2 separate regions of the Homo sapiens genome follow, and region 2 is linked to region 1. Evidence: fine-mapped expression QTL. A gene starts in region 1. The other region holds a variant in brackets. All regions are shown on one strand. Distances are between the middles of the regions. Region 1 holds the start of KAZN (kazrin, periplakin interacting protein). Region 2 overlaps KAZN (kazrin, periplakin interacting protein).

Region 1 (2,912 bases):
CTTCTCTAAACCGCAGAGTCCCTTCAAACGGGCTCCCTGCAGCCCACCACCCTAAGCCTTCATTTCTCTACCGCTCAACCTTTGAGGTCTACAGTATCCCCCTGGAAAGTGCTCTCGGTGTTTATATTTGCGGAAATTTAAACTCCCTGCTGAGCTGAGCATCTACTGTTGCATCTATAGATTCCAATGCCTGAGAGACCTCAAATGAGAAGAAAATAAAGTCCAGATGCAACTGAGCCAAGGGATTTGGCATCCGCGGAGAAAAGTGCACAGCAGTGCAATCCTCTATCCCAACCACGGCGGCAGAGCCCGGAGCTCTCTCTGGGAAGGAGCCTAAGGAAGTGGGGGGAACTGTGCCATTCACCCCTGCGGGGGGTGGGGAAAAGGCCCCGGCATGAAAAGTTTGCACGGAGCTAGGGGGCTGGTGCCACGGAAAGGGCACTTTCTGATGCCGGAAGGGACCCGCCGGCTGCGCCTCGCTCAGGCTGGCCGGGGCCGGTGTGACCGTGTGACCCCGTGCACACTGCGCTCGGGTTTTCGTGAATGACAGCAGCCTGCAACTCCCAGCCGGAGAGCAGCGGTGGCCACCGCCGGGCGGAAAGGGTTACAAGCCAGAATGCAAAGCGATTTCGCCCCGGGTGTGGGGGACCCCGGGTCCCCGGCCACCTCCGAGGCCGGGCGTGCTCTGCTCGCCTTCCTCCGCCCTGGGCGCCGGGGCGATCCTACCTTGCGCTCCAAGCTGGGGGTTCTCCATGTTCGTCGCCGCCGAGTCCCCCGCCGCCGAGGCGCTGGCCGCGGCTCCCGGGCCCGGGCCGGGGCCGCCGCCGCCGCTCAGTTCCGCCAGTCTCCGGTTGGTGGCCGTGAGTTCGGCTCGCAGGTTGGTCACCTCCTGGCTGGCCGACTGGACCGCCCCATCGATGCGGAGCGCGAGCTGCTTATTGTCTTCCATCATGCTCAGGATTTTGGCCTGGGGGCGAGAGAGGTGACAAAGAGCTGCATGATGCGCGGGGGGCGCGCGGCCGGGCACCCCCGGCTCTACCTGTTGTGTCCTCCGCGGCCCGGCTTCGCCCGCGCCCCGACCCCCAGGCACCGGCAGCGCCGGTTCCTCCGGCACAGGAATGACAGCGGCGCCTCCAGCCCTAGCCGCGGCGGTGGCGAGGCGGCGGGGGGAGGAGGCGGAGGAGAAAAAAGAGGAGGAGAAGGAGGAGGAGGAGCAGCGATCGCCGAGACCCCGGCGGGCGGGCGCCGAGAGCTGCTCCAAGAAGGACACCGCGCGCCACCAGGCACTCTTTAAATGGAGCCTACCATTCGCCGCCGGCTCGGGAGGGGGTCTCGGTCGGAGGCTGGGGGCACCCTTGGCCTCCCGCGCCCCCGTACTTCGGAGACACACCCCCCGGGGGGGCGGAGGCGGCGGACGGCAGTCGGGAGGGGGCCAAGGTGGCGCCCCTGGCGAGGGGCAGGGGTCGCCTGGACCGAGGCCGGCCCTCTGTCCCCTCCCTTGAGCGGTGGGGCAGCCCCCGCCCTGGAGAACTGGTGCCCCGAGCCGTGCTAAGGTTGGGGAGGTGCTGGGTGCTCGGAAGAGAGGGTGCTTGGAAAGGGGGCCTCAGAGGGGAGCCGGGGTGGATCTCCATGGAAGGGAGACGCTTGCGCCAGCTCAGGAGTGGAGTTCGTGCTCCACCGGTTCCTTAAACTGCGAGTACGAAATCCCCAGAGGGGAGCTGAGCTGGTGCCCCGCGTGCCTCTCACTCTCCACCCCCCACCCGCAGGCCAGACCTGCGCTGCCCACCCCAGGAGGGAGCGCCTATCTTCCTCGGCGTGGGCCGCTGGTGCTCCCGCCTCTCCACAGCCCTAGCCCTGTGTGTGCATCCAGGTGGAGGAGCAGCCTTAGCCAGCTCCTAAGCTTCTTAGCCGGGCTGAATATTGGCGGGGACAGAGATGAGGTTGAGAGATAAGAAGGAAGGCGTCGATGGGGCTTCTTCCCTTTCTTCTACTGGGAGCAGAAGAGTTGAGCCCTGCTGCCTCAGTTTACCCATCCCCTCTTCACAGAAGAACTGAGGTAACCTGACGTTGATATGCCCTCTCCAGCTCCTCTTTCTCTCCCAGACCACAGGCTTTGCATTTTTCACTGGGGCCCTGGATTCCAGCCACCAGACCTTGTTACCATAGCAAACTTCATTCCATGCAAATAGGACAATTTAAAACAGCCAGCAACCCTCTGGTCAACAGGGCGCCATCATTCCAGCTCAGTCAACCTCCGGAGAGCAGCAAAGAGCAGATTGCAGAAGCCAGTGGGGTGCTGCGAGGAAAAATGAGGCTGCCCACCCTTCAGGTTCTTACAGGAAGCCCATAAGAACCAAGCAAAAACTGCGTGTAGAGTGCTTTTATATGCATTCTTATCTCTTGTGAGTGAGGATTATTATTCCCATTTTAGGGATAAGGAAACTGAGGCTCTGCATAGGGTTAAGCAATTTACTTAAGGGGCCCGCAGAAACCAGGTGACAGCGGGACTGGAAGAAAGTAATCATCTGATTGCAAGTTCCTCCTGCTGCGCCTTCAGGAGGCCTTGGATGATAGATTTCTCCCCCCTTTTCTGTGGAACCATAAAAACAGTCTTGCTCCATTCCCCTGTGACCACTAACAAGCTTTTGCAAGAGGGCAGGATTTGATGGTGGAGCATGTGGCAGGAAGACACAATTCTTCACTCTGTCCGCTCTGCTCAGCTAATGGGTCAGTTCGGGGATCGAACCCTGACCTTAACCTCATTAACACAAGTTCTTACCAACTGGACCAACCAAGGCACTTAGAACTGCTTAGTGTATCTGCAAACCAGGATTCAGTTCTTTGCAGTCTTTCAGTTACGTTATGGGGAGAGCATCAAAACTACAGAGCTGTGTGGGTCTTGAAAAGGGGGA
Region 2 (2,912 bases), 270 kb before region 1:
TTCTCATCTTATAGCAAACACAGGTCACACCAGGATTTCTGGGCTGGATCCAAAAAGTTGGGTGAATGGAGAAGGAGATTGGTTTTGACAGCTTTTGGTTCTGGCACACGGAGTGTCAGGCAACAGTTGCTTAATTGCTGTCACAGGTGACAAGATGGTGCAGTTACCTGCAGTAGTTAAGTTAGCTGCAGTAGTTAAGTTAGCCTTCCATCCATCTGTCCATCCATCCATCCATCCATCCATCCATCCATCCATCCATCCATCCATCCAGTCAGCCAGCTAGCTAGCGATTCATGCCACCATTCCTCTGAAACAACTCAAGGTCACCAATGACATTATTAAATCCAGTGGTCACCTTTCCAGCCCCTCTTACTTAATCTGTCAGCAGCATCTAACAGTTGAACACTCTCTTCCGGACACATGTCACTTCTCTACTGGTTTCTTCCTACCTCACCAGCTGTTCCTTTTCAGTAGCCTTTGTTGGATCCTCTTCCCCCTTCCGACCTCCAAATGTTGGAGGACTCCAGAGCTCAATCCTTGGATTCTCTATCTGTACTCACTTGTCTGGTATCGTGGCTTTAAATATCATCTGTATATGCTGATGATTCCCAAATGGATATGACCAGCCCTGTCCTCTCCCTTGAAATTTGGACAGTCAACTCTCAGATGATTAATAGACATCTCTAACCTAGCATACTCCAAACTGAGCTCCTGATTTCCTCCTGGCCCACCCCCTCTAAACTCGCTCCTGCCCCTGTCTTCTCTATTTCAAGAAATGACAAGTGCTTTCCTTCCAGTTACTCAAGGGTGCATCTCTGGAATCATTCTGGACTTCTCCTTTTTCTCCTACCCACCACATCCACCACGTCAGTTCTGCTGGCTCTACCTTTGAACTAGATACTGAATCTCGCCACTTTGCCCCACTTTGCACTGCTCTCTCCCTGGTCCCAGCCACCACAAACTCATGCCTAGATGATTGCAGTAGCTTCCTTATTTGTCTCCGGCACCTGCCTTTCCTCCCTAGAGTCTATTTTCAACACAACATAAATATATGTCAGATCCAATCCCTCCTCTTCTCAAAGCCCACCACTGGCTTCTCATTTCACTGAGAGGAAAGCAAAGTCTTCCAAAAGCCTGAAAGGCCCCTGGCTCCCTCTGACCTCCTCTCCTTTTACATTTCCTCTCCTCCCACACTCTGGTTTAGCCATGCTAGCCTTCTTCTGTTCTCTCTGCTTTTCCCTCAGATCTCTGCATAGCTCACTTCCTCCCTTCCCTCAAGGCTTTCTCAAATGCTGCTTTACCAAAGAGACCACCCTATGTGAAACAGCAGCCCCATTATTCTGCATCCCTCTTCCCCACTTTATTTTCCTTCATAGTGCTTACTGCTACTAGAAATTCTTTATGCTATTTGTTTTCTTCTTGAACATCTGACTCTCCCCTTTAGAATACAGTCTTTCTGAAAGCAGGAGCTTTGTCTGTGTTATTATTCTATCCCTAACTACTTGAATAATGCCTAGTGCATAGCAGGTGACAGAAGGAATGAATGGATGAATCCATCCACCCATCCATTCATCTATCTGTCCATCCATCCATCCTTCCATCCATCCATCCATCCACCCATCCATTCATCTATCTGTCCATCCATCCATCCTTCCATCCATCCATCCATCCACCCATCCATCCATCCACCCACCGATTCATCTATCTATCCACCCACCCATCCATCCATCCATCCATCCATGTATCC[T/A]TCTATATGTTCTTCTACTCATCTTTCCATCCATCCATCCATCCATCCATCCATCTATCCATCCATCCATCCATCCACCCAACCATCCATTTATCCATATATCCATTCACCCATCCATCCACCCATCTATTCATCTATGTATCCGTCTGTACATCCATCCATTTGTCCTTCCACCCATCCATCTGTACGTCCATCCATCCATCCACCTATCCATTCATCTGTCCACTTGTCCATCCATCCATCGAACCATCCATCCATGCAATAATTTCTTACTGGGATTCTGTATAGGTTCATGAGAGATCCATTATATTAATCCTTCAAATGTGAAGGGAGATGTCCAGAAATAAGACCATTTTAAGGATTTCAGGCCCCACTTAGATCAGTGGTTACAATAATTATGAGCATGAGCAAGACTTATTCACACAGTACCTGGCTTCATCATTGGAGCTTTCAATTAAGGGATGCAATGAATATTCCCTTATAGCACTTCACAGTTTACAAAGCAAACTGTAATGATCCAATTGAATAATCTAAAACTGCACTGTACAATATGGTTGCTGTTAGCCATATGTGGCTGTTTGAATTTAAATTCATTGAAATTAAATAAAATAAAAAATTCAGTTCCTTAGTCACACTAGCTATATGTTAATTGCTTAATATCCACATGTGGCCAGTGGCTACCATATTAAATAGAAAGTTCTAGGAAGTTCTATCAGACAGCACTGCTCCATAACCACCCTAAAGTAGTAGTTTATTATATCCCATTTTGCAGACAAGAAAACAAACCCAGAGAAGTCCCCCAGTCAGTATGAAGCAGAGGCTAGTCTTGAAATCTAGTCTTCTGACTCCAAGTCCATTATTCCTTCCAAAGAAGGGTAATTTAAGGGACTGGTGCCCACACGCTTGCACCCTAATTCAGCTTCTGATACAGGAGTGCAGGAATTTAGATGTTTATCTGCCAGCAATAGCCTCTTGCCTTGCTGTCTGCGCATATTCATGCCCCCTTCTTCTGGTAGCTCCCAGATGATTAACAGACATCTCCAGCCTAGCATGCTCCAGACTGAGCTCCTGATTTCCTCCTGGCCCACCCCCTCTAAACACCCCCATTCTCCCGGGTCACCTTTCTCTCCCCTACTCTGAGTCCATGACACTGAGACTCACGTGG

The links.
Region 2: its variant is fine-mapped to the expression of KAZN in whole blood (TOPMed, PIP above 0.99).

The regions. Positions count from the first base shown.
Region 1 is chr1:14,597,038-14,599,949 of GRCh38, reverse strand. KAZN (kazrin, periplakin interacting protein) reads right to left here and starts at 1,265. Exons shown (of 15, transcript NM_201628.3): 1 at 727-1,265. The coding sequence starts at 952. RefSeq lists a silencer at 439-598.
Region 2 is chr1:14,871,829-14,874,740 of GRCh38, reverse strand. The region is part of intron 1 of KAZN (kazrin, periplakin interacting protein); the gene reads right to left. Among named protein-coding and RNA genes, the nearest start is that of KAZN, 270 kb to the right of the region's middle. The variant T/A (reference allele first, on the strand shown) is at 1,748.